4 linked regions of the Homo sapiens genome follow. The protein of the gene in region 1 binds, or shares a complex with, the protein of each later gene. Each region holds a gene or a part of one and is shown in the gene's direction. Other genes may lie near its edges.

Evidence for each region.
Region 2: TXNL4A (region 1) and PRPF4 share a complex: the UniProt entries of both Homo sapiens proteins name them as parts of the precatalytic spliceosome.
Region 3: TXNL4A (region 1) and PPIH share a complex: the UniProt entries of both Homo sapiens proteins name them as parts of the U4/U6-U5 tri-snRNP complex.
Region 4: TXNL4A (region 1) and USP39 share a complex: the UniProt entries of both Homo sapiens proteins name them as parts of the U4/U6-U5 tri-snRNP complex.

What each region holds. Positions count from the first base shown.
Region 1 is NC_000018.10:79,978,542-79,985,565, reverse strand, and holds part of TXNL4A (thioredoxin-like protein 4A), read left to right. Parts: intron 1-7,024. UniProt on the Homo sapiens protein: Plays a role in pre-mRNA splicing as component of the U5 snRNP and U4/U6-U5 tri-snRNP complexes that are involved in spliceosome assembly, and as component of the precatalytic spliceosome (spliceosome B complex).
Region 2 is NC_000009.12:113,271,054-113,278,667, forward strand, and holds the start of PRPF4 (U4/U6 small nuclear ribonucleoprotein Prp4), read left to right. Parts: upstream 1-4,604; 5' UTR 4,605-4,690; coding exon 4,691-4,717; intron 4,718-5,491; coding exon of another isoform or gene 5,492-5,494; coding exon 5,495-5,672; intron 5,673-7,614. Other genes in the region: anaphase-promoting complex subunit CDC26, read right to left, coding at 1,374-1,454. UniProt on the Homo sapiens protein: Plays a role in pre-mRNA splicing as component of the U4/U6-U5 tri-snRNP complex that is involved in spliceosome assembly, and as component of the precatalytic spliceosome (spliceosome B complex).
Region 3 is NC_000001.11:42,668,421-42,675,444, forward strand, and holds part of PPIH (peptidyl-prolyl cis-trans isomerase H), read left to right. Parts: intron 1-6,867; exon of another isoform or gene 6,868-7,024. UniProt on the Homo sapiens protein: PPIase that catalyzes the cis-trans isomerization of proline imidic peptide bonds in oligopeptides and may therefore assist protein folding. Participates in pre-mRNA splicing.
Region 4 is NC_000002.12:85,612,049-85,619,199, forward strand, and holds the start of USP39 (ubiquitin carboxyl-terminal hydrolase 39), read left to right. Parts: upstream 1-4,137; 5' UTR 4,138-4,147; coding exon 4,148-4,415; intron 4,416-7,151.

The sequences.
Region 1 (7,024 bases):
AAATAAAGTTTTCATCTGGGCACTGTGTCTCACGCCTGTGGTCCCAGCATTTTGGGAGGCCGAGGTGGGTGGTTCCCTTGAGCCCAGGAGTTCGAGAACAGCCCGGGCAACATGGTGAAACCTTGTCTGTACAAAAAATGCAAACATTAGCTAGGCGTTGTGGCATGTGCCTGTGGTCCCAACTACTTGGTAGGCCGAGGTGGGAGGATATGAGTCCAGGAGTTCAAGGCTGTGACAAGCCGTGATCGCGCCACTGCATGCCAGCCTGGGTGACAGAGCGAGACCCTGTCTCAAAAAAAAAAAGTTTTCTATTTAGCAGCTGATTTTATGCAGTTTTGAAGCGAGACAATTTCATGTACGAGCTGTCTTTCCATTTTGTAGGAACACTGTCACAGGAGACAATTTCATGGACCTTTGAGCTGTCTTTCCATTTTGTAGGAACACCATCACAGGAGACAATTTCATGTACCTTTGAGCTATCTTTCCATTTTGTAGGAACACCGTCACAGGAGACAATTTCATGGACCTTTGAGCTGTCTTTCCATTTTGTGGGAACGCCGTCACAGGAGACAATTTCATGTGCCTTTGAGCTGTCTTTCTATTTTGTAGGAACGCTCTCAGAGGGGACAATTTCATGTGCCTTTGAGCTGTCTTTCCATTTTGTAGGAACACTCACAGCAGTGCTTGGGGTTCACTGTTACCTAAATCCCATGATGGGTGAGAAGACTGAATGGGACGTTTATTTTTTGTGTTAAAAAGCCCACGCAAATAGAGTTTAAAATAGTCTCAGTGAGCTGGGCATTGTAGCATGTGCCTGTAACCCCACTACTCAGGAGGCTAAGACAGAGTATGAGCTCAGGAGGTCAAGGCTGCAGTAAGCTATCATCGTGCCGTTGCACTCCACCCTGGGTGATAGAGCGAGACCCCATCTCTAAAAACAAAACAAAAAAATTCCTCAGTAATATTATTGACTCATGATAGTACATTTTTTTTGTTTGTTTGAGACAAGAGTCTTCTTGTGTTGTCCAGGCTAGAGTGCAGTGGCACGATCTTGGCTCACTGCAACCTCAGCCTCCTGAGTAGCTGGGACTACAGGCCTGCACCACCACCACACCCTGCTAATTTTTGTATTTTTGGTAGAGATGTGGTTTTGCCATATTGGCCGGCTGGTCTCAAACTCCTGTCCTCAAGTGAGCCAGTCACCTCAGCCTCCCAAAATTCTGGGATTACAAGTGTGAGCCACCATGCCTGGCCCATGATAGTACATTCTAATAAATTGTGTGTAAGGCAGATATATATTTATGGAACTTCATAGGAGCCATATTAAGGGGTGTATCTTAAGTATCACATTAAGGATCACAGAACGCCTACTGAACCAGTGAGAGTCAACACTCAGCTAGATGAGGAATCTTGTAGAAACAAACAGAATGGATATTTTTGGTGTTTCCTCTGGATTTTTGTCTCTGGAAAAAAAACAGCCTTGTAGCTAGCCACAAGGTATGAGGGGTGATGTTGAGCCGTGGTTGAGGGTGCAGACTCTAGCCACAAGGTATGAGGGGTGGTGTTGAGTGGCGGTTGAGGGTGCAGACTCTAGCCACAAGGTATGAGGAGTGGTGTTGAGCGGCGGTTGAGGGTGCAGACTCTAGCTAGGCTCTTGGCACTTCATAACTGCATGAGCGTTACGAACTTGGCCCCGTGGGTCATCTTACCTGTAAAAAGGGCATACTTGTGCCTCACTCATAGGGTTGTGGTGGGATTAATAAAGGTTTCTAGAGCACTCCTGTCACATGGGCAGTAATGCCACTGTTATTACTGTGATTACTTCTCTCACATTACTAAGTTTGCAAGTTATTGTGAGAGCTGATTAAGGCAAACATTAATTTTAGAAAGTCAAGTTTTTCAGTTTTTTTTATGGCTTTGACATGAATTACCTAAAAATGTAAAAATAAACACTTCAAAAATTTGTTGTGCTAATCAACTGCCCAGAACACTTTTTCCGGAATTTTAGGTGTTTTCTTAGCTGGTTGAGGGACTCCATACAAAAGTGTAGAACAGTGGTTGGTATCATGTGCCAGTTTGGTCATGTGTTTTGCAGAGTTATGTCATTGTAACTTGGCAGGTGGACTTAGAGGCATGCGGAAGAACTGCTGAGCACTTTAATTGCTGACTTGCCTAAAGAAAAAGCATGCTTATGAGGTGTATAGGCAACAGAGTTGGAAAAGATACTTACAATTCAAGGCAATCAAAGAATTTAAAAACAATTTGAGGCCAGCGCCGTGGCTTAAACCTGTAATTCCAGCAGTTTGGGAAGCCGAGGCAGGCGAATCATCTGAGGTCAAGAGTTCGAGACCAGCTTGGCCAACATGTTGAAACCCCATCTCTACTAAAAATACAAAACTTAGCCAGATGTGGTGGTGGGCGCTTGTAATCCCAGCTACTCGGGAGGCTGAGGTGGGAGGATCTCTTGAGGCTGGGAAACAGAGGTTGCAGTGAGCCGAGATCACGCCACTCTGCTCCAGCCTGGGTGACAAAGTGAGATCCCATCTAAAAAAGAAAAGAAAAAGCTGCCTTTGTTGAGGAAGTCACAGGATGACTTGGCAGAGCAGTGTGGCTGCACTCACCCAGCTCCTCCTCCAAGCGCTTGGTTACCGTGGAAATGTCGCCACCAGCAGATGCTGCTGGATGTTTGCTGATGTTTGCCCTCAGCTCATGCTCCTCCAGTCACCCCACAGATGCCATTTCACCAAGAAAATGGGGTGGTGGGAGGCTGGGGAGCTCCCCTCTGCCTGCCTCTTTCAGCCTCTCCTATCTGAACTCCCAAGTCCCACAGTAACTTCCCTCTCTCTCCATAGCCACGGCTTTTGAAAGTTGTCCACACTGAAGTCCTCTGTTCCTCAGTCCTTCAGCCCCTGCAGTGTCCCCGTTCCCATATCGTCCTTTCTGGTAACCTCTCTGGGGCACTCGGCACAGCTCCCCGGAGTCTCCTGCCTTGGTTTCTGAGACTGCCTCCTTGGCATCCCTTTCCTGCCCCCAACTCTACAGTGGGCTTCTGCACTCACTCCCAAGCCTGGCACCTGCCACCCTGGCTGGGATCACTGCTGGATGTAGGTGGCGGCAGTAAGGTAGCTCTCTCCAGCCCAGACTCCATTGTACAGCTCCAGGCCAGTCGCTACCTGGAGGGCCTTTTTCTCTGGATGTCCCTTAGTTTTCTCAAACTCAGTATATACAAAACTGAACTCTTCAATTCCTGCTTTCTTAGAAATAAATACATGGCCCAGAATCCCAAGTGGAAAAGGTCCTCTGTGGGCCAGTCCACCTGCGCATCGGTCCCCACTGTCCTGCACTTCTGCTTCCTTGCCCTGGTGCTGGATCTGAGACCTGGCTGCTGGTCTTGTGTCTTTCTCTTTACACATGGAATTCTCTAAGGACAGATATTTCCCTGCCACCCCGTGACCACACTGCCGCCCCGTCTCCTGTGGGTTAGGCTGATTCTGTCATCCAGAGTTCAGGCTTTGGAGCCAGACAGAGTGCATCTCAGCTCTGCCCCTTCCCCGTGCGGCTGGGCATCACTCACGTGACCTTTCTGAGCCTGAATTCCATCACCTAAAACATCGGCGACATCTATTTAGAGGTGTTGAAAGAATTAGAATCCATGAGTGAAAAGTGCCTCATACATGGTGGATTCTCAAGTGTTCATGAAACTGGTCTGTGGTGAAATCAGAGGATGTTCACGTTCTCGTGGCACGTGAGCTTTATGTGGTAGTTTGCCTCTGTTAGAATTCTCCGGGTTAGATGCAGTGGGCCGGAGCTTGAAGGCAAAAGGAGAGTCACATTTGTATCTTTAAAGTTACAGTTACTCAGTTGCCCTCTGATTATTGTTGTTGTTGTTAGTTTGAGAAGGAGTCTCGCTTTGTCCTTCAGGCTGGAGTGCAGTGGCACGGTCTCAGCTCACTGCAATCTCCACATCCTGGGTTCAGGTGATTCTCCTGCCTCAGCCTCCCAAGTAGCTGGGATTACAGGCGTGCACCGCCACACCCAGCTAATTTTTGTGTTTTTAGTAGAGACAGGGTTGCACCACGTTGGCCAGGTTGGTCTCGAACTCCTGACCTCAAGTGATCCGCCCGCCTCAGCCTCCCAAAGTGCTGGGATTACAGGCGTGAGCCACCTCACCTGGCCCTGCACTCTGTTTATTAAATGCCTACAAATTATTAAAAACCACAGATGCTTATAATATTTACTATTTTTTACGTGCAAGAAAAGGGATGGTAAAAATTTGTTGTGACCTTTCTTTTTTCTTAAGTACACAATTTACAACCCTGTCCAAATGATATTTCAAGTAATTTATTATTTGCATGGTGATTCCGTAAGTTAATATGATGTTACTGGTATTTATTGTATCTGTCCCTGAGCAAGGCATTGAAGGGAGAATAATGAAATATTATTTTGACTTTCCTAATGCCTGTGACCATTTATTTTGTTGGTGTATTTATTTTAGCTTCTGTAGGGAAGTATTTTGTGTTTAAGTCAAATCAAAAGACAGTTTATTAGTTTACCATGAAAATAAAGCTGGATTCTGGCAACCTGACCAACACATTCTCACTGTGGACGCTGCGGGAAACTAGAGTTTCAGAAATGGGCGTTGTCAGAGTGACCGGACTCAGAGGGGCCCATGTCTAATGCAAACATCACTTTGGGGTTTTGAAAGCACATGGACGGGGAGTCGCATGCCCCTGCAGTGGGCCGTGTGCTCACTTTGGGGTTTTGAAAGCACATGGATGGCGAGTTGCATGCTCCTGCAGTGGGCCGTGTGCTCACCTTGGGGTTTTGAAAGCACATGGATGGCGAGGCGCACGCTCCTGCAGTGGGCCCTGTGCTGGAGTTCTGATACGGTTTTTTTCACCAAAGCTGAAGGGCAGTGGAGTCTTTGTGAAGTGTGGGCTTTCCCCCTCCCCCTCTCCCCACCCTGCTCCATGGTTTACATTTCCATCTTAATTTTTAAAAAATATTTCCCAAAGTAGAGAATATAGTGAACCCGTCTGTTCCTATTGTTCCACTTCAACAATTGCTGGTATTTTGCTGGTCTTGTGTTACCTAACCCCTCATTTTTTTAGGCTGTGTGTTTCATGGAAATCCCAGATATAATTATTTCACCTGTAAGTTACAGTCAGGTTGTAAAGATTTAGTTTTATATGAAGAAATGTTGTGCATATCCCATTGATTTCCCGTGACTGCTGTGAGAGGATGCTGCAAGCTGAGGGGCTTAAAACAACAGAAACTTCTCTCACAATTCTGGATACCAGAAGTCCAGAATCGAGGTGTTTTCCAGGCTGGGCTCTCTCTGAAACCTGCCAAGGAGAGTCCTCATGCTTCTCCCAGCTTCTGGTGCTGCCAGCAGCCTCTTGGAGCTCCTAGGCTTGTAGACGCCTCTGCAGTCCTCGATGCCCCCAGAGCCTCCTGTCCCTGTGTCTTTATGTGGCCATTTTCCTCTAAGGACACCAGTCACACCAGATTAGGGGCCCACCTACTCCAGTATGACCTCATCTTACCTTAACTGATTACGCCTGCAGTACCGTTTCCAAATAAGCTGCGCTGTCACTTTGGGGGTTTAGGACTTCAACTGTTTTGGGGACACAGTTTAACTCATAACACATGTAAGTGGCTACAAGCTTCTAAAGGGCATTGAGTTAGTATTTATAAAGAGCCTTTAAAATGTCATATCCTTTGTTCCAGAATTTTAGGAATTTGTCTTTAGGAAATAATGAAGTATGTATACAAATTTAAGGGGGAAAATGTTCACAGATGAATAATATTAATGAACAATCAGAGAGTAACAGAAGAATGGTGTAGGAGGCTCTTCTCGCATTGCTATAAAGAAATACATGAGACCGGGTAACTTATGAGAAAAGAAGTTTAATTGGCTCACAGTTCTGCAGGCTGTACAGGAAGTGTGGTACTGGCATTTGCTTCTGGGGAGGCCTCAGGACCTTCCAATCATGGCAGAAGGCAAAGGGGAACAGGCACGTCGCACGGTGAAAGCTGGGGCGGAGTGTCACACACTTGGAACAACCTCAGCTCACTACCCCGAGGACAGCACCAAGAGGATGACGCTCAACCATTGATGAGAAATTCATCCCATGATCCAGTCGCCTCCCACCAGGCCTCACCTGCAACGCTGGGAGTTACGTTTCAACCTGAGATTTGGGCAGGGACAAATATCCAAACTATATCAAATGGTAAAGTAATGGCATAGCCATTTGATGAATCACGCAGCCATAGAAGTTTGCCATTTTTGGAAAGTAGGTAATGTATGTAAAAGAATGCTCTTAATTGGCCGGCGCTGTGGCTCACGCCTGTAATCCCAGCACTTTGGGAGGCCGAGGTGGGTGGATCACCTGAGGTCAGGAGTTCGAGATCAGCCTGGCCAATATGGTGAAACCTCGTCTCTACTAAAAATACAAAAATTAGCCAGACGTGGTGGCACACACCTGTAATCCCAGCTACACGAGAGTTTGAGGCTGGAGAATAGCTTGAACCTGGGAGGTGGAGGTTGCAGTGAGCCAAGATCATGCAACTGCACTCCAGACCAGGCGACAGATCGAGACTCCGTCTCAAAAAAAAGAAAAAAAAAAGAATGCTCAAAATTAAAGCAGCATACAAAATATTGTAGTACGATCACAATATGACCATATTTTGCTATGTCTGAACAGAAATAATATGAACAAATTAAAAAATATATATCTATAAGAAAGGGGAAAGAATATAGTAAAAATATTGCCAGGCGTGGTGGCTCATGCCTGTAATCGCAGCACTTTGGGAGGCCAAGGCAGGCGTATCACTTGAGTCCAGGAGTTCAAGACTAGCCTGGGCAACATGGCAAAACCCTGTCTCTACAAAAAATACAAAAATTAGCCAGGTGTGATGGTACGTGCCTGTAGTCCCGGCTGCTTGGGAGGCGGAGATGGGAGGATCGCTTGAGCCCAGGAGGCAGAGGTTGCAGTGAGCCAAGATCTTGCCACTGCACTCC
Region 2 (7,614 bases), on another chromosome or scaffold:
TTCCAGACATATTCTGAAGGTAGAATCAAAGGGTCTACAGACAGATCGAATATAAAGCGTAAGAGAAAGGGAGGACTCAGGAATGACTGCTAGGTTTCTGGCCTGAGGAACTGAATCAATACTGAGATGGGAAACACTGGGGAAGAATGGAAGGGACGACTGGTTCAAGGGAGAAATCAAGAGTTTTTCTCTCTTCTTTTTTTAACATGTTAAGTGTAGTAGGCTGAAAAATGGCCCCCAAAGCTAGCAGGTCCTAATCCTGGAACCTATAAATGCCTTATATGGGAAAAGGGCCTTTGCAGGTGTGACTAAATTAAGGATCTTGAGAAGGGGGGATTATCCTGGGTTAGTCAGGTGGGCCCTAAACACAATCACACATATCATAAGAAGGAGGCAGAGGAAGTTTTCACAGACAGAAAAGAAGACAATATGACTCTGGAGGCAGAGACTGGAGTGATACAGTCATGAGTCAAGGAATGCCAGCAGCCACCAGAAGCTAGAAGAGCCAAGGAATGGATTCTTCCCTAGATCCTCCATAGGGAATGTGGCCCTCCTGACACCTAAATTTCAGCCCAGCAATACTAATTTTTGGCCTATAAAACTGTGAAATAATAAATTTCTGTTGTCTTAAGCGATGAAGTTTGTGGTACTTTGTTACAGCAGCCACAGGAGACATACATGAAGTTTGAGATGCCTGTAAAGCATCCAAACAGAGATTTCAAATAAGCTGTTGGCTTAAGAGTCTGCAGTTCAGAAGTTAAAGTTATTGTGTATGTATGTGTGTGTATATACATATTTATGTATGACAGAGAGTCTCACTGTTGCCCAGTGTGGAGTACAGTGGAGCCATCATAGCACACTGTAACCTCAAACTCCTGGGCTCAAGCAATCCTCCCGCCTCCGCCTCCTGAGTAGCTCAGGCATGCGCCACCCTGCCCAACATAGAGACAAGGTCTCACTATGTTGCCCAGGCTGGTCTCAAACTCCTGGCCAGAAAATGCTGGCATTACAGATGTAAGCCACTGTGCCCACACAAGAATTATTATCTTAAATATTCCTTAAGCTTTGAAAGTTGTATTCATGGCTGGGTGCAGTGGCTCACGCGTGTAATCCCAGCACTTTGGGAGGCTGAGGTGGATGGATCACTTGAGGTCAGGAGTTGAGACTAGCCTGGCCCCAACATGGCAAAACCCCAACTCTACTAAAAATAAAAAAATGAGCTGGGCGTGCTGGCATGAACCTGTGGTCCCAGCACGCGGGAGGCTGAGGCAGAGGAGGCAGAGGTTGCAGTGGGCCAAGATCATGCCACTGTACTCCAGCCTGTGTGACAGAGCGAGACTCCATCTCAAAAAAACACAAAGTTGTATTCATACCTCCAGGTCCTTTCGAATGTTCTCAAACTCTTCAATGTCATCAAGCTTTAGCTCTAGGCGTGTTGGTTTCCGTCTCAGCATACTGAAGTCAACACTAAGGGCCAAACCCAGTGAACTATTAGCTGTTAAAAATGAAAGAGAGGAGGAAAATCTGAAGGTGATAAAGTCTCAGATACAAAACATAAAATCAATTTGCAAGCATGTATACTAAAGTGAATGGAAATATTAAAAATTTATTTGAATTTACACATAGACTTCTAAAGTCTTTTTTTTTTTTTTTTTAAGAGATAGGATCTTGCTCTTTGCCCAGGCTGGAGTGCAGTGGCATGACCTTAGCTCACTACAGCCTCAACTTCCTGGACTCAAGCAATCTTACTGCCTCAGCCTCCAGAGTAGCTGGGACTACAGGCGTACACCGCCATACCTGGCTAATTTTTGTGTTTTTTGTAGAAATGGGATCTCTCTCTGATGCCCAGGCTGGTCTCAAACTCTTGGGCTCAAGTGTTCCTCCCTCCTCATTTTCCCAAAGTGCTGGCATTATAGGCAAGAGCTACTGTACCCAGCCAACTTCTAAAGTCTTTAGGTATGTGATTATTACATTTTTGTTACATTATGGAGATCTACAGCTCTATAAAATCAAAAACTCTTTCTGTAAGAATTTAAAATAGCAAACTGCCTATAAGAGAGAAATTCTAGGCAACCATCACTTTAATCTCATGTTCCAGTCACATTCAAAGAACTACTCTAGCTAAAAGAATAAACTATCACATCTTAGTATAGTTAGAGGAAAAAGTGGACAAACCAGTGAATTTAATCTACCCTACATGAGAATTGTCAGAGATTTGTGATCACTCTTGAATGCTAAAATCAGTTTGCTAAATCTCAGGAAAACTCCAACTCACCAATTCACAGGATTATCCTCCGCGTCCAAACAGATCTTAAATGTGTACGTCATTCATTAAACAAACACTTCTTGTGTTCCAGCTACAAAGTTAAAAGGTACAGTCATAATCTGTGGGGAAAACAAAGAGAAAACTGTGATATCATGTAATGAGAACCCTGATGAGGATACTAGCACTGGCATCACACAGGCACCTAATCCAGTCTGGGCTGAGTGTGGGGTGGACAAGGATGTCAGGCAAGCCTTCCTGGAGAAAATGATGTCTTAGTTGACTTCTGAAGGTCAGGCAGAGAGAAGAATGCACAAGGAGGCTCAAGTACAGCTTTGGTAACGTAGCAAGACCCTGTCTCTACAAAAAAGTAAAAAAAATAGCTGGGCTGGTAGTGTGTACCTGTAGTCCTAGCTACTCAGGAGGCTGAGGTGGAAGGATCACTTGAGCCCAGGAGTTTCAGGTTGCCACCGTGAGCCATGACCTCACCATGAGACCCCAACTCAAAAAAAAAAAAAAAAAAAAAAAAAGGCTCAAGAGAGCATTCCACAGCCTGAAATCCCAAGGTAATACTATGTTAACAAAAACCATTTTGTTTTGTTTTGTTTTTGAGAAAACACAACCCCCCAACTGAGTTTAATATCTGTTGATGGCATCATTTGTATATTCTCCACAGCATCCCCTAGAGTGTATCTATAAAAACAGTCAGTAAATGTTTGTTGACTAGAAGGTGAGATCATTCTTGAGCACCGTGCTGTTTTTCCATTCCCATTCTTTACATTCTTATTTTAACACAAAAACCCTGTGAAGTTGACAAAATGATTCCTATTTCACACATAAAGAAGTCATCGAAGCAAGCTGTTCAGTTTGGTTAATAATTTTAGCCTCCTATAAAAATTATAAAGGTCAACATGATAAGCATTAAGTGAAAATGATGGAAGTGAAAACTCCTTGAAAGTATGTACAGATACAAATTATTACACGTATCTAGGATGAAACTAAGGACTGTGAAGTATACAAAGGAAGAAATAGTTCCTTCTCCCATGAAGCTTAGGATACTACAGGTGATATTATCAACACAAAACACTGGCACATTACATTTCAAATTCCTTTGTACTAAATCAGGCATTATCTTCTACCAGATTCCAATGCAGACAAATGGTAGAGAAAGCCAAAGTTCCAAAGAGGGAAAGAGAGGGATAGGGATACCTAAAAGGGGGAAAAAAAAATCTATACATTTTACCTTTTCTGCAAACTGCAAAAAACTGGCCACTAGGGAGCAGTATAGATTAACAGTTAAAAGTGCTGGCTGTAGAGGTTAAAGGGCACAGGTTTTAATCCCACTACACCACCGATCCTGAACAATTCGTTTCATTTCTCACTAGACCTTAGTTCCCTCATCTGTATCCTACTCTGCTGTTGTAGGAAGTCAATAACGTAATACAGAGTAAGCTCTTGGAATATTATTTGGCATTTAATAAATGTTCAATAAATAACATCTATTATTGCTGTAATTGTTCTAGGGGGTTGCATGAGGATCTGGCCAGCTAGGGAAACGTCAATATTTTGAGGATCTCCCACCGCCCATGTGGGGATAAAAACCTTATCCTGTTCGTCTCTAATGCCCCAGCATCCAGCAGGGCAGAGAGACGTACAGAGTTACCTGACACCTTCCTATCCATCATCTTACTCTCAATCTGATACAAAGACCAGGCTGAAGACAAATCAACAAAATCAGGCCGAAGCTCCTCCGCCGGGTCTTTATTTGACTTTGGCACTAGCGGGCTCTTCTAGCTTAATCTCCCGCCGCAGCCCAAATCCACCGCCGAGCCATCAAGCTCAGAGGGGGAGCCTGGGAAGACTTCCGGACCATGGAGGAGAACAGTCCTCGTCCCCTAGCTCCAGGCCTGTACCTCGGAGCCCAGGCAAGGGTTTCTATGGTAACATGGTCCTCGGCTCCAAGAAGACGTAAACGCCCCCGTACGCCCGGGGGGCACAGCGGACCCCGGAAGCCCTTGACTCGCTCCAGAGTTCAGCCCCGAGCCGCGCGAGTCGACTCACCTACCTCTTTTCAAGCCGGCCTAGCCCCTTCCCGGAACCTCGGCTCCCCCCCAACGAAACTACTGCTAAGCCAACTGGACTACACTTCCCAGACTGCTTGGAGCCTCTCTCTCCGCAGAACCTCGTCTTCCGCGAGCTTTTCCTGGAGGTTCTAGGAGGGATGCCCCTCAATGCCACGACGCCATTTCCTACTACGACTTCCATCATGCTCCGCGCCGCTCCGGGGGCGGTGACCCCTCTTGGCCCACGTCTTGTCAGTGACGCACTTCCTGTCAGTGACGCACTTCCCCTCTGCTGGGCGCGCGGTGGACGGTCTGAAAGGGAGTGTTCGGGTTTCGCTGGGGCCTCGCGGCTCCAGAGCCCAGCATGGCTTCCTCGCGAGCCTCTTCCACGGTACAGAGCCCGGGATCCCAGCTCACTCTGGCAGGGAGCGCTAAGGGGGAAGGGGATCTCTGCGGGAAGGGGCCGTTAAGGAGCGGGAGAAGGCGGTGGAGGGCTGAGGAGGAAGGCTGCGGGACTCAGCGGTGTCCTACACAGCGGACCACCGTTTTCCTGATCCCTAAGCGCTTTCGTGGACTGTAGCTTATTTGCACCTCTCCCACTACAGCCCCAAAGGGCAAGCATCTCTTCCGACTCATCCAGTAACGGTGCTCTGAAATAGGGAAGTGTCTTGGCCAAGGTTTATGCCTTTGGCAGATCTCAGAATTTTAATGAGACCTACTAACTCCTACTACCTCACGTCTAGGAACGTTTGAAATGTATACACTTGTAATGTTGTAACTTGTTATCCTTTAGCACCGCGTTGGTTATTTCATCTATCCTTAGTATTTCCCCAGTGATAAGCAGTAATCCGGGAAGCATAAAACACGAGATTGAACACTTCCAACGGAATGAAGTAAACAGATTTCAGAGCAAACCTTTCATAGGAAAATACCCGAGAGAACCTCACTAGTTTTATTAATCCCATCAACCAAAGTGAGGGACTGAAACACCCTCACCCTACCTTCACCTCCTCAAATCAATGAAGAGCGTCTTAAGTAGTGTCCAATTTGTCCTTTCAATTACAGAGGAAACAGGACTGTGAAACTCAGGGTGAGCTTCATCCTCTGGTGAAGTCCGGTAAATTGCCAAGATTAAACCTTAGTTTAATGCAGATCTTTGATTTAGCAGGCAACCAAAACTAAAGCACCCGACGACTTAGTTGCTCCGGTCGTGAAGAAACCACACATCTATTATGGAAGTTTGGAAGAGAAGGAGAGGGAGCGTCTGGCCAAAGGAGAGTCTGGGATTTTGGGGAAAGACGGACTTAAAGCAGGGATCGAAGCTGGAAATATTAATATAACCTCTGGTAAGATGCAAATTGTGAGCCCATCTTTACCTCTTTGTGTAATGAATACCTTTCTAAACTTAAATACCACAGTTTTATAATGTCAAAAAATTACAATTTTTTTTTTTTTAAACAGAGTCTCGCTCTGTCGCCAGGCTGGAGTGCAGTGGTGCGATCTTGGCTCACTGCAACCTCCGCCTCCCGGGTTCAAGCAGTTCTCCTGCTTCAGCCTCCCGAGTAGCTGGGATTACAGGCGCACACCACCACGCCCGGCTAATTTTTGTATATTTAGTAGATATGGGGTTTCACCATGTTGGTCTGGCTGGTCTCAAACTCCTGACCTTGTGATCCGCCCGCCTCGTCCTCCTAAAGTGCTGGGATTACAGGTGTGAGCCACTGTGCCCGGCAGAATTTCAATTCTTAAACTTGCAGCTATAAGGCTGTATTTTGCCTACCCCCTTATTATCATGCAGAGAGCCTTTTTCTTACAATCTGTTATATAGTTTTTCTTCTATGAGTGAGCAGTCTTATCAAAAATTCAGTGTACATTTGGATTCAGATTGATTCCATTTGTCTTCTGGAGATCTAACATAGTTCTGGCATTGGTTTGCAGCTAGAGTGGTTCATGATATTCTCCCTTTTGAAGTTTTGTAATTATTTTTTACCCAAAGTGAAATCTTTTTGTGTGTGTGTGTGTGTGTGACAGGGTCTCACTCTCTTGCCCAGGCTGGAATGCAGTGGCGTAACCTTGGCTCACTGCAACCTCTGCCTTTTGTGTTCAAGGGATTCTCCTGCCTCAGCCTCCCGATTAGCTGAGATTACAGGTGCCCGCCACCACACCCAGCTAATTTTTGTATTTTTAGTAGAGACTGGGTTTCACCATGTTGCCCAGGCTGGTCTCCAACTCCTGACCTCAAATGATCCGCCCACCTCGGCCTCCCAAAGTGCTGGGATTACAGGCGTGAGCCACTGCACCTGACTGAGCTATCTTTTTTTATTATAAAAGTAATAGTGGCCAAGCCTGGTGGCTCACACCTGTAATCCCAGCACTTTGGGAGGCTGAGAAGCGGGAGTCTGGCTTGAGCCCAGGAATCCAAGACCAGCCTGGGCAAATAGTGATACCCCATCTCTACAAAAAGTAGAAAATTAGCTGGGCATGGTGACACGTGCCTGTATTCCCAGCTAATTGGGGTTCTGAGGTGGGGGTTCAAGGCTGCAGTGAGTCATGACTGTGCCACTGCACTCCAGCCTGAACAACAGAGCGAGACCCTGTCTCAAAAAAAAAAGTTATTTTCTTTTAAAAGATCAATGTATAAATGTGTGAAGTAGAAAATCCTGTATTTTTAAAATTAATTGATTGTATATCTTTCTGAGAATTTTAATACAGCTAAAAAGTATGTAATTTTTTCCATAAATGAAAACACAATACGTAAATTGTTGTATAACCCCCATTTTTCATTTATATACCATTGAGGATATCTTTCCATGTCAGTAATGAGAGGTCTACTATATTTTAAAAATAAAATTATGCATATTTGTCCTAAGAAATTCAGACAATGCCAAAGGGCATAAAATGAAGACTCCTCTGCAGTAGGGACATCTGTCAGGTTTCTTATTGATCCTCCCACACATTTTCTAAACACATGCACTGTAGCCTAGTGACTTTTTAAACTTTTAATACTGTTTTTAAACATAACGTCACCACTGTACCTCTCATTTTTTATCACACTTGTATTTTGGTGTGGGTTTCAAAACTATTGCTAGATTATCCAGAAATCCTTATAGTTGTGGAACTCTCATTTTCCTGGTAATTATTTGCAGTTTAGTAGTTAATGATTTGTTAAGTATCCCTATACTGGGTCTCCTTTCGAGAATAAATAGCTTTGGCTGTTGTTACAATAATGTTTCTGTTACATCTTCTGGATAGACAGCCTAGTTAACTCATTTGCAAAAGATGTTCTGT
Region 3 (7,024 bases), on another chromosome or scaffold:
CTTCTTCTCTTTCCCATTTGAAAGTTGCAGACTTCTTGACACTTTACCCCTAAGTATTTCAGCAAGGAACTCCTAAAAATAAGAACATCCTACGTAACCACAATATTATCTAATATATAGTACATTTTCAAACCTCCCCAATTGTCCCAAAAGTAACTTTTGTAGCTTAAAAAAAGGTGATCCAATCAAGGTTCCCATATTTCATTTCATTTGGTTTACACAAGTAACATAATACACTCTCATTGTGAAAACTTTCACACCAAACAGATAAAGTGAAAGCCCCTCTTGACAATACCCACCTGCAATTCCACTCCCCTTTCCAAAGGTCACTTCCTTATTAGTTTGATGTATGTCCATCAGGGCCTTTGCCTTGCCCATCTAATTTTGGGAGGTTTTCTTTTTCCCAAATGAAATCATACTATATTTTTCATGTTCTAAAAAATATGTCTTGAAAACTTTTCCTTCTTAGTTCATGTAAAACCACCTTGTATTAAAAAATGAAAACAGCCCGGCAGGAGGTGGCTCACTCCTGTAATCCCAGCACTTTGGGAGGCCAAGGAGGGCAGATAGCTTGAGCTCAGGAGTTCGAGACCAGCCTGGGCAACCTGGTGAGATCCCGTCTTTCCAAAAAAAAAAAAAATTAGCCAGGTGTGGTGGTGCATGCCTGTAGTCCCAGCTACTCAGGAGGCTGAGGTGGGAGGATTACTTGAGCCCAGGAGTTTGAGGCTGCAGTGAGCTATAATCACACCACTGTACTCCAGCCTGGATGACATCAAAAAAAAAAAAAAAAGGAAAAGAAAAACCGAAACTGCAGTGCAGGCTGAGCATCCCTAATCCGAAATCCCAAATGCTCCAAAATATGAAGCTTTTTGAGCACTAACATGACATTAGAAGTGGAAAATTCCACACCTGACTTCATGTGATGGATCATAGTCAAAAATCTGTTTCATGCACAAACGTATTAAAAATATTGTATAAGATTACCTTATACAATAGCTATAAGTAGCTAGGACTACAGGTGCATGCCACCACGCCCAGCTAATTTTTATATTTCTTGGTAGAGATGGGGTTTCATCATGTTGGCCAGGCTGGTCCCCACCTCAAGTGGTCTGCCCACCTTGGCCTCCTAAAGTGCTAGGATTACAGGCGTGAGCCACTGCCCCCAACTGAGCATTAGTTCTTAATTTTATATGTTGTAATTGTTTTCTTCAGAATATATTTTAAGAAAAAAATTAGTATTGTGTTGCTTAAGTTTGGTGATATTCTTTGTTAAAGAGAAGTTCTAAATTTTGATGAAGTCCAAATTATCAGTCTTTCACTGCTTTTCAGTTTTGTCTCATTTAAGGTCTTTACTACCTCAGATCACAATGTTTTCTGTGTTTTTTCTAGTATTTCTTTTTATATGGTGGAGCTAAGATCATTTTTCTAGTATTTTTAAAGTCTTATTTGTACATTTATAAAATCATCTATAATTAATTTTTCTGTATAGTGTTAAGATAGGACTTTTTCTTGTCTTTTTTTCCAAATGGAGATCCAGTCAAATACCTGACCATTTTAATGACTCTACAACACACCTTTATCTGTGACCAACTCTGTTCAGAAAGCTGGCACTTACAGGCATTCAGTAAAAATTTATTACATGAGTTAAGTAGAGAGGGAGAATGTCAGGCATTTTAGGCGGGGAACTCGTGTGAGCAAATGCTGAGGCTGGAATGCACAAGTGTGTGCTGAGAGCTACATGTGGACCTCTCTTGTTCAGCCAGATGATCCCTTCTCAGGCCCACTTGACACCCTGAGCTTTCCTTTCTGCCAATACTGGGTCCCCCTTGGGCCCAGCCTGCTCTCCCTCTTCAATGGCTGCTGGCCATTCCCTCCGTCTCCTACTCATTTCTTTGCTGTAACTAAAGTTGAGTTCATAGGTCCTTTCTTTTCAAAGACTGACCACTGATCACTACCAGAGGACAAACGATAACAAAAAGAATAAAGTTTAGAAATTCTTAATGTTGGGGCCTCTTTTCTGTATCTTTTTGAGTCTTTTACATAAAGTTACTGGAAGTCCTTGTTGAGGTTTTATTTCTGAGGGTGGGGATCATCAACCCTCCCCGCTCTCCCCCACTGTTAGCAAAAGTTATATGAACTTTTGCTTCCAAGAAAGCCCTTCTTCTCAGCCTGCAACCCAAGCAGAACGCATTCCTCAGGTGGCCATTGTACATTCCACAGGCCCGCTAGACCAGGACTGTCCATAGGCTGTGATGATGGAAAGATTCTAGATCTGGGAGGTCCAGTATGGTTGCTACCAGCCCCATGTGACAACGGAACACTTAAAATGTGGCTGGTGCAACTGAGGGACTAAACTGTTAACTTTTTATTTTTTATTTATTTTTTATTTTTTTGAGATGGAGTCTCGCTCTGTCGCCCAGGCTGGAGCACAGTGGCGCCGTCTTGGCTCACTGCAACCTCTACCTCCCGGGTTCAAGCAATTCTCCTGCCTCAGCCTCCTGAGTAGCTGGGATTACAGGCGCACGCTGCCATGCCTGGCTATTTTTTGTATTTTTAGTAGAGACGGGGTTTCATCGTGTTAGCCATGCTGGTCTTGAACTCCTAAGCTCAGGTAATCTGCTCATCTTGGCCTCCCAAAGTGCTGGGATTATAGGCGTGAGCAAACATTCCCAGCCTATTTTTTTTTTATTGACAGAACTAAGCTGTAGTTTATTAAATTTAAATTAGGCTGGATGTGGTGGCTCACACCTGTAATCCCAGCACTTTGGGAGGCCGAAGCAGGTGGATCGCTTGAGGCCAGGAGTTTGAGACCAGCCTTGCCGACATGGTAAAACCCATCTCTACTAAAATTACAAAAATTAGCCGGGCGTGATGACACACGCCTGTAATCCCAGCTACTCCAGAGACAAAGGCACGAGAATCTCTTGAACCCGAGAGGCAGAGGTTTCAGTGAGCCAAGATTGTGCCATTGCACTCTAGCCTGGGCGACAGAGCGAGACCCTGTCTCAAAAATAAATAAGTAAATAAAAAAATAATAAATGTAAAGAGCCAGTTGTAGCTAGTGGCTACTGTACTGGACAGTGAACTCTTTTAAATGTAAGCTTCTCAATCTACTCGCCCTGGCTTGCTTAGAACTGAATCTCGTAGCTAATACTTAAGGGCACTATAATTAAAGCAGTTATCCTTCAATGAATTCTTCCTGTGCCCGGATAATGAGCTAAGAACTTTACTTGAATTATCGCATTTCACTTTACCAAAAATCCCTCATAGGTTTTAAGGTGTTAGGAAATCTGGGTGGCAGTCTAATGTAAAGGGGTTCTACAGATGGGCACCCCATTTTGGGTTTCTGAATAATGTGATTTAAGAAAAATTAATGAAAGAGGAGATGAATTTCCCATGGAGCAGGGGTGTGGAGGGAAGGGAAGTGGTATTTTTAAGCCCTATTGGGCAGTATTTCTTTCTTTCTTTTTTTTTTTTTTTCGAGACGGAGTCTTGCTCTGTCGCCCAGGCTAGAGTGCAGTGGCGCGATCTCGGCTCACTGCAGACTCTGCCTCCCAGGTTCAAGCAATTCTCCTGCCTCAGCCTCCCGAGTAGCTGGGATTACAGGTGCCCACCACCGCACCCAGCTAATTTTTGTATTTTTTAGTAGAGACAGGGTTTCACCATCTTGGCCAGGCTGGTCTCAAACTCCTGACCTCATGATCCATCCGCCTCGGACTCCCAAAGTGCTGGGATTACAGGCATAAGCCACCATGCCTGGCCGGGCAGTATTTCTTATACTTTAACGTTCATACGGATCTCCAGGAGATTTGTTATAAAATAGTGGTTCTGACTCAGTGGGTTTGGATGGGGACTGAGATTTTGCATTTCTAATCAGCTCTCAGGTGATGCTGATGCAGACTGTGAGGCAAGTCAATAGGGGATAAGAGTCTATCTTTTAATTGAGAACTTGCCATATTCCAAAAAAAAAAAGACCAAGAGGAAGTACTCTCTTGGTGGCACTAGTCCAGCAGGAATCCATTGCATTCACATCAAGGTATCACCTAATCCTGCATTTGAGGCCTTGTGCCCAGGCACTGGACATATGCAGTGAAACAGCTAAGAAGGAGATAGAAGACGGGTCACTTGATCAATTCTACCTCCCTATGGAGCACTTCTTTCCAGAACCTTTGTGTTTTGCCTTCCTAGGTTCTGACTTTGGTTTTAGTGAAAATGAAGTTTTGTGTACAATTTTTTTTTTTTTTAAGACAGAATCTCACTCCGTTGCCCAGGCTGGAGTGCAGTGGCACGATCTCAGCTCACTGCAACCTCCGCCTCCCAGGTTCAAGCGATTCTCATGCCTCAGCCTCCCGAATAGCAGGGATCACAGGCATGCTCCACCACGTCTGGCTAATTTTTTTGTATTTTTAGTAGAGACAGGGTTTCACCAAGTTAGCCAGGCTCGTCTCAAACTCCTGATCTCATGTGATCTGCCCGCCTTGACTTCCCAAAGTACTGGGATTACAGGCGTGAGCCACCATGCCTGGTCTGTACAACTTTAGTTATAGAAACCTTGGTTTTATCTCAGTGAGTTCTGGGAGAGTTTTTTTTTTTAGACAGGGTCTTACTCTGTCACCCAGGCTGGAGTGCAGTGGCGCAGTCACAGCTCACTGCAGCCTCGACCTCCCTGGCTCAAGTGTTCCTCCCACCTCAGCCTCCTTAGTAGGTGGGATTATAGGCGTGCAGCACCACACCCAGCTAACTTTTTAGAGATGGGGTTTCACCATGTTGTCCAGGCCGGTCTCAAACTCCTGGCTTCAAGCGATCTTCCCACCTCAGCCTCCCAAAGTGCTGGAATTACAGGCATGAACCACCGTGCCCAGCCCTTGGAAAACTTTTTATGATGAATTTGGTTATGTATAGCATAAATGAACCTCTACACTCAGGATTCTCCTGCTGTAGTCTGAATGGGTTGTTTGCTACTTACATGGACATGGGAGAGGGTGGCACCTCTCTTTTGAAAGCCCGAGTTCTGGCAGCTCTGCTAGTCTGATATGCTTACCCTCTTCCCTGTGATCCTCAAACCTGGTACCAGTACCAAATGGTAGAGAGCTTTCCTTAATTCATTGTTGCCTAGATTCTCCAACAGGTAATAATCATTTTGGGGCACTCGTTAAACCTACGAATTCCTAGATCCCTTCCCTGGAGTATTTGATTGAGTGGCTTTGGGGTGGGACCAGGATGTTATGTTTGTAACAAGTATCTCACATGCTTCTTAATAGAGAAGTGTGGGAAACACTACTTTAGTTAGTGGTGGGATGACTGTCTTTTATTTTAATATTTGGATCTTAGGAAAAAATACGGAATTAGCACAATACATCATTTTACAGTTATTACAGCTTATAGTGAGGCAATATTGAAGTTCAAATAGTGATTAGCTTAAAAAATAAATTGTACCTGTGGATGATAGATATTGTAACAGTTGTGAAGATGCTATTTGAATGACTAAGGTTTAGGAAACACTGTGTTTCATTCTAGAATTACCTATAGATGCGAGACATTCCCGTAGGGGAAGATTAGGAAATATGTGTTGGTGGCAGTTGGGCTGGTCCTCTATTCATTCCACAACTAAGCGCTGATGAATTAAGATAGTTCCCATGCTGCATATGAGGCTACAGATTTGAAAAGTCAGTTCCATCCTTCAAGGAACTCAGTCTCTTGGGAGAACTGACAATTACAGTACAATAAAGCCCTGTATTGGAGGTTTTAGAACAAGGTGAGGAAAGCATAAATGCCCGGATCTTCCCAGAGTGGTTGAGTAGACTACAGAAGAGATGATGCTTCAGTTTAGTACAAGAAAGAATATAACTTGTCAGGTGGCTAAAACTGGGCAGGGCATTCCAGGCAGAGGGAACAGCCTATGCAAAGTCACAAAGGCAGGAAACAGCAGGAAGTGTAGAGGAAGCTGCAAATAATTCAATATGACTGAAGCAGGAAGATATGAAAAGCAAATGGTGAGAAGGTTGGAGAGAGGCCAGGGCCAGTAGTGAAAGCCAGTGCCAAGTTTAGCAGTTCATATGTTATTCTGAGGGCAGAGGCTGACTTTCAGGCATGAAGTAATTTTTCCCTTTTGGGGAAGGAGTCCACTGTGCTCCTGAGATTCTCAAAAGGGGCACTGACCCTCCAAAAAAGAATCAGGCCAATATGAACCACTTAAGGATTTTCAGCAGAATACTGTAGATGAATTTTCATGTTCAGAAGATGATTCTAGCAGCATTGTGGAGGATGGGCTGGAGGCCAGTGAGGAGTCTACTGCAGTAGTAGTCCAGGCAAGAGAAAAGAGGTTTTACATGAAAATATGGGTCTGGGGAACACTGGAGATTTGGCAGCAAATATTTATGTGCCTGCTGGGCATGTGACACTGTATGTTCCCTGTCCTGAAACTCAGAAGCTCTGCCAGCTGAAAAGGCCAGGAGTGGAGAGAATGTCTGGCTCCAGTCCATTCCAGTCCAGTACAAAGGCAAAGCTGCTTGCATTGCAGCCAAGTCTTACACACGTAGAGGTTCCATTCTCTTCAGTGGAATACTATACAGCCTTAACAAAATAAAGAGGTAGATCTGGATGTGTTGGCAAGATTTCTAAGGTAAGTTAAGTGACAGTCAAGATGTAGTAATTTATGTAAGCATGTTACTGTTTATTTTGAATGACTTTCAGGAATCTCTGCAGTGATATATAGCAGACTGTGGATAATACTTCTGCAGAGTAGAGATAGCAAAGAGACTTTTCAGTTGCCTTATTTAAGCTTGAATTTTCTACCTTGAACATGTATCTTGTAATAGAAATACATACTGTTTATATGTAGTGTTAACTAATCCTAAATCCTCCCAGCACTTCCCAGGAGCCTGCCCACAGCTGTGGCTAACATCAGGTGTGAATCCATTGCTGATCCCTCCACCTCCTCTTCCAGGTCTAAGCCCAGACAGTGGGTGCTCCCACAGCACTTGGTTCATCTCTCCACTGTGGCATTTAATATACTGTATCACAA
Region 4 (7,151 bases), on another chromosome or scaffold:
AGCTCCGCGCCGCCCCTTGCTCAGCTTCCGGCCCCGCATCCTGACTTCCGGTCTGGGAGGCCCCGGCCTGGCCAAGCGATGCAGCGCACGGAGTTTTCGGGTCTGGTCGGGTCGGGTGGAGTAGGGTATGCTTGACTTCCACCCCCCGGACGGAGGGCTTTTGTTTTTGTTTTTTTTTGTTTGTTTTTTCGTAACATATCAATAGGAAACAAGGACTTCGGCTTACAGCTGATACCAGAACCTTCAGAAAAATGCAAATCATCTATAACACAACTCGATGCTTACGGCGGTGCCTTCCCATCTTTTTTCTGGTAATAGGATGCTGTGCAATCCATCGCCATCTGCGTGACTTTGGCTGACTGTGTAACGCTGCCACTTCTCAGTTTCCTCATTAGTAAATGGGAACACCTAGAGCACCTACCTCAAATGGATTGTGAGGCCTTGAAGTGCTCAGGCAGGGCAACAGCGGCGCCCAGGCCGCAGGCGCCGCGAAGGCTCTCCTGGCCCGGCTTGCCTCCTGCTCACGGCGCCGATGGCTTAACTGTCCCCGCGGGAGGACCCAGGGTTTTTGAGGGACCTACGGGTGTATTATTTTCTTTTTTATTTATTTTTCCTTTTTTTTTTCTTTTTGAGAAGGAGTCTCACTCTGTCGCTCAGGCTGGAGTGCATTGGCGTGATTTCGGCTCACTGCAACCTCCGCCTCCCGGGTTCAAGCGATTCTCCTGCCTCAGCCTCCCGAGTAGCTGGGACTACATGCGCGTGCCACCACGCCCGGCTAAGTTTTGTATTTTTGGTAGAGATAAGGTTTCACCACGTTGGCCAGGCTGGTCTCGAACTCCTGACCTCAGGTGATCCGCCTGCCTCGGCCTCCCAAAGTGTTGGGATTGCAGGCATGAGCCACCGTGCCCGGCCCCTTTTTTTTTTTTTTCTATTTTTTCTGACCACTGGGTTCACGTCACAGCGTGTAAAATTCTCAAGTCCTTTTACAAAAGTCAAAATCAGGAATTCATGATTAGGACAGGGACAAACGGCTGGATGCAGTGGCTCATGTCTGTAATTCCAAAACTTTGGGATGCCGAAGTGGGAGTATCGCTGGAGGGAGGAATTTGAGACCAGCCTGGGCAACACAGCGAGACATCGTCTCTACAAGAAAAAAATACATTAAAAAAGAAAGAAAGAGCCGGGCGTGGTGGCTCACGCCTGTAATCCCAGCACTTTGGGAGGCCCAGGCGGGCAGATCAAGAGGTCAGGAGTTCGAGACTAGCCTGGCCAAAATGGTGAAACCCCGTCTCTACTAAAAAAAAATACAAAAAATTAGCTGGGCTTGATGGCCGGTGCTTGTAATCCCAGCTACTTGGGAGGCTGAGGCAGGAGAATCGCTTGAACCCGGGAGGCGGAGGTTGCAGTCAGCCGAGATCGAGCCACTGCAGTCCAACCTCCAAATCAAAAAACAAAAAACAAAAACAAAAAACAGGGACCAATGGTGGTCCAGCCACACGATGGAATATTACTGAGCAATCCAAAGGAAGATCTGTAGCTCAACAACATGGATGGATCATAAAATAAATATGCCCAGTGAAAGAGGCCAGGGACTCTGTATGATTCCATTTATATGAGACTCTAGGAAGTGCAAACTAATCTATAGTGACCGAGAGATCAGTTGATTTTTGTGGGGGTTCTCTGGGAGGAAGAGGATATCTTTGGGGCTGGGTAGATTCTTTAAATTTTTTTTTATTTTTTTATTTTTTTGAGGCAGGATCTCACTGTCGCATAGGTTGGATTGTAGTGGTGCAATCACTGCTCACTGCAGCCTCCACCTCTCAGGCCCAAACGATCCTCCTGCCTCAGCCTCCTGAATAGCATGCCACCATGCCCAGCTAATTTTAAAATTTTTTTGTGGAGATGGGGGGGGTCTCTCTATGTTGCCAAGGCTAGTCTTGAACTCCTGACCTCAAGTGATCCTCCTGCCTCAGGCCTCCCAAAGTGCTGGGATTATAAGTGTGAGCCACCGTACTGGGCCCAGATCCCGTCTCTTGATTGTGGTGATGGCTTCATGGGTGTATATGTTACAGGAAAGGGATCCCTATTCAGACCCCAGCAGAGGGTTCTTGGATCTTGTGCAAGAAAGAATTCAGGGTGAGTCCACAGTGCAAAGTAAAAGCAAGTTTATTAAGAAAGTAAAGTAGCCAGGTGTCGCGGCTTATGCCTGTAATCCCTGCACTTTGGAAGGGGAGGCGGGCGGATCACTTGAGGTCAGCACTTCCATACCAGCCTGGCCAACATGGTGAAACTCTGTGCCTACTAAAAATACAAAAATTAGCCGGGCATGGTGGCAGGTGCATGTAATCCCAGCTACTCAGGAGTCTGAGGCAGGATAATCACTTGAACCCAGGAGGCAGAAGTTGCAGTGAGCCGAGATCTCACCAATGCACTCCAACCTGGGTGACAGAGCAAGACTCTGTATCAAAAAAATAAAATGTAAAGTAGTGAAAGTACAGCTACTCCATTGACAGAATAGGGCGTTCCTGAAAGTAAAAGGAGGAACGCATCCACCATGGCTACAATGCTTGTTTATATATAGGATAAAAAGATCATGGGGAGATGTGCTCTGCTACAAGGGTTTGTGATAAAGGATTAATTTTATTATTATATTTTGCAAGAAGAAATATTATCTTTAAAGCAAAATTAGGAATGCCTTTATTCTCCAGATATTGGGATATTAGGACACTCCCAAGTCTGGATCTGTTTAGTAAACATTATCTCTCTGTTCCCTTAACTGTAGACATCTCTAGGCTAGGAATACCTAACTTCCTGGGAATGCAGCCTGTCAAGGCCCAGCCTCATTTTCCTAACCCTCACTCAAGATGGAGTTGGTCTGGTTGAAACGCCTCTGACATATACCGCAAGTCAGAATTCAGTAAATTGCACACAGTGTGGTGTGGTGTGGTGTGGTGTGGTGTGGTGTGGTGTGGTGTGGTGTGGTGTGGGTATGACAGAGTTTCACTCTGGTTGCCCAGGCTGGAGTGCAATGGGGCGATCTCGGCTCATTGCAACCTCCGCCTCCCGGGTTCAAGCGATTCTCCTGCCTCAGCCTCCTAAGTAGCTGGGTTAACAGGCTCGTGCCACCACGCCCGGCTAATTTTTGTATTTTTAGTAGAGATGGGGTTTCACCATATTGGCCAGGCTGGTCTCCAGTCCTGACCTCAGGTGATCCGCCCGCCTTGGCCTCCCAAAGTGCTGGTATTATAGGCATGAGCCACAGCGCCTGGCCTAAATTGCACACTTTAAACATGTAGTTTGTTGTATGTCAATTATACCTCAATGGAACGGTTCAAACAAGCAAACAAGTTCAAGGCAGGTCCTGAGGTTAGAGCTTTATTAGCTTCATGGTAAATCTGCCTTTACCGGGCATTTGCGTTTTCATGGTACCAAGAACCTTCTAAAAGTAGAATTAGGGCTGTCAAGGGGATGATTTGGGAATGTCGCCTAGTTTTCCTGTGCAGGATTGTCAGCCCCCAAGCCGCGGAGACTGTGGGAAACGACCTCACGGTGGTGGTTTCGAGGCACAAATCTGGGGCCGAATGACAGCTTCTTTGTTTTTGAGACGGAGTTTCGCTCGTTGCCCAGGCTGGAGTGCAATGGCGCGATCTCGGCTCACCGCAACCTCCGCCTCCTGGGTTCAAGCGATTCTCCTGCCTTAGCCTCCCGAGTAGCTGGGATTACAGGCATGCGCCACAATGCCGGGCTAATTTTGTATTTTTAGTAGAGACGGGGTTTCTCCATGTTGGTCAGGTTGGTCTCGAACTCCCGACCTCAGGTGATCCACCCGCCTCGGCCTCCCAAAGTGCTGGGATTACAGGCGTAAGCCACCGCGCCCGGCCTGACAGCTTTTATCCAGAAAACTGTCGCCAGTAAAGGTTCCCGTCTCAGTAAACTGTAAACGACAGTAGGCCCACAGAAGGTTCTAAGGGGAGAGGAAGCCAGTGCAGGAACAGCACCGCCCACAAATTTTCTGCAGCGTGATTTGTCCCCAGTGGCGACTCGTAGAGAGTTCGGGGCTCGCTACCAGCCCCTCTCCTGATTGGCCTTGTGCCGCGCGCTCGAGCGTGCTTGGCGCCTGCGCTGGACGACTCGGCCGGTAGTGGAGATGTCCGGCCGGTCTAAGCGGGAGTCTCGCGGTTCCACTCGCGGGAAGCGAGAGTCTGAGTCGCGGGGCAGCTCCGGTCGCGTCAAGCGGGAGCGAGATCGGGAGCGGGAGCCTGAGGCGGCGAGCTCCCGGGGCAGCCCTGTGCGCGTGAAGCGGGAGTTCGAGCCGGCGAGCGCGCGCGAGGCCCCGGCTTCTGTTGTCCCGTTTGTGCGGGTGAAGCGGGAGCGCGAGGTCGATGAGGACTCGGAGCCTGAGCGGGAGGTGCGAGGTGCGCGGGGCCGGGCCGGGCTAGGCGCGAGAGCCTGTTTTTTTCGCGTCCTTTTTTCTTGTCTCTAATCTTCCGCTAGGTCACTGCGCCGGAGTTGGGGGAGGGGTGGGGTTGGGGTGGAGAAGAGGAGGGATCCAGACTCGACGATTCTGCTGTTCGACTTGTTCTGATGAAGACAGTACCCTTCTCAATAATCGTATAGTATTTCTTTTTTCTTTTTTTTTTTTTTTTTGAGATGGAGTCTCATTCTGTCACCCAGGATGGAGTGCAGTGGCGCGATCTCGGCTCACTGCAACCTCTGCCTCCCCGGTTCAAACGATTCTCCTACCTCCGCCTCCCAGGTAGCTGGGATTACAGGCGCCCACCACCGCTCCCGCCACCACGCCCGGCTAATTTTTTGTGTTTTTAGTAGAGAAGGGGGTTTCATCGTGTTAGCCAGGATGGTCTCGATCTCCTGACTTCGTGATCCGCCCGCCTCGGCCTCCCAAAGTGCTGGGATTACAGGCGTGAACCACCGTGCCCGGCCAAACGTATGGTATTTCTAACTGCAAAAATCGTAACAACAGCAGCTTCCCTTTATCGAATGCCCGATGTGGGGGCTCAGTGCTGATTTTACAAGTGTTACTTCCTTCCATTTTAAAAAAGAATTTTTTTTTTTTTTTTTGCGTTTTAAGAGAAGCAAGTCTCGCTATGTTGCCTAGGCTGGTCTCGAACTCCTGGACTCAAGTGTTCCACTCACCTCGGCCTCCCAAAGTGCTGGGTTTACAGGCGTGAGCCACCGTGCACGGCTTTCCTTCAGTTTTTACATCTAAGGTCTTGTAATTTCTGTAATCAAGATATTCAGAATGCTTGAGCAATAGGCACCTCTACTAAAGTATGGATTATGTAGCACTTTTTAAGCTGAATAAAGTCTGGAGACAATTTTCCATTAGTCTCTTGAGTTTGTGCACGTACTGCGACCATTGCCTGACTGCCTTTTCTCCTGGACTCTCGTTAAGGATGTTCGTGTAGTGAGCAGCCTTGGAAGATAGAAATGGTGTCTCCCTACAAAACGAGGAGACAAGGGCACAATCCCTTATAAAAGATTTGGGGCAGGGTGTGGTGGCTCACACCTGTAATCGCAGCTACTCTATAGGATGAGGTAGAGTTCAAGACTAGGATAGGCAACAGAGCGAGACCTCGTTTGAAAAAATGGTTAATGGTTCAGATTCTCTAAGCACGGGGTTCGTCTCCTGTAAGGCAGCTCACTGTGTGCATGGGTTCTCCTCACTTTGCCTTGTGGGAATTCACTTGGAAAACTGACACCAATGCTATATTCCGGCTACTGTCATTGCTCTAATAAACTGTCCTTTATTTCAGGCCAGGTAGTCACATGCTTTCCATCAGCATTCATAAAACTGTGACAGGCTAACTTGTTAGCTTGCGAGTAGGGTAAGATCTGAGACCCACTCAAGTTTTTGACAAGTGGTAGATTTATAGATACACATGTACATTCTTTTTTTTTTTTTTGAGACAGTTTCACTCTTGTTGTCCAGGCTGGAGTGCAATGGCACGATCTCAGCTCACTGCAACCTCTGCCTCCCAGGTTCAAGCAATTCTCCTGTCTCAGCCTCCCAAGTAGGCTGGGATTACACGTGCATGCCACCATGCCCGGCTAATTTTTGTATTTTTTAGTAGAGATGGGGTTTTATTATATTGGTCAGGCTGGCCTTGAACTCCTGACCTCAGGTGAGCCGCCTGCCTCTGCCTCCCAGAGTGCTGGGATTACAGGCATGAGCCACTCACCCAGCCACTCTTTAAACTACGTAGTACATTTGTGGCCGGGCGCAGTGGCTCACGCCTGTAATCCCAGCACTTTGGGAGGCCAAGGAGGGTGGATCGCAAGGTCAGGAGTTCGAGACCAGCCTGGCCAACATGGTGAAACCCCGTCTCTTCTAAAAGTATGAAAATTAGCTGGGTGTGGTGGCTTGTGCCTGTAGTCCCAGCTACTCGGGAGGCTGAGGCAGGAGAATTGCTTGAATCCGGGAGGCGGAGGTTGCTGTGAGCTGAGATCGCGCCATTGCACTCCAGCCTGGGGGACAGAGCGAGACTCCGTCTCAAAAAAAAAAAAACAAAAAAAAAACGAAACACACAACTATATGGTACATTTGTATTACAATTAGTTTATTTTAGTGCTTGTGACATATTTCATATTTTTCATGCTTTATGGGATTTCTTTATGTAAAATGCAAACAAATCTTCTGTTGATTTTATGTATACCAAATATATTCTCCCAGTTTGTGGCTTGTTCTATTAGTGGGCTTTTTTCTTTTCTTTTTTTTTTGAGAGGGAGTTTTGCTCTTGTCGCCCAGGCTGGAGTGCAGCGGTACGATCTCTGCTCACTGCAACCGCCTTCTCCCAGGTTCAAGCAATTATCCTGCCTCAACTTCCTGAATAGCTGGGATTACAGGCACCCACCACCATGCCTGGCTAATTTTTGTGTTTTTTGTAGAGACGGGGTTTCACCATAGTTGGCCAGGCTGGTCTTGAACTCCTGACCTCAGGTGATCCACCCATCTCGGTTTCCCAAAGTGCTGGGATTATAGGCATGAGCTACCGCGCCCGGCTAGTGGACTTTTTTTTCGATATTGTTGCCACCCAAACAATAGGAACTCATCTTGATTAGTTTTTCCCATTTCTGTTTCTTTTTTTGTTCTGTTAGTTGGCCCTGAGTATAGGTTTCCCATTTTCAAAGCC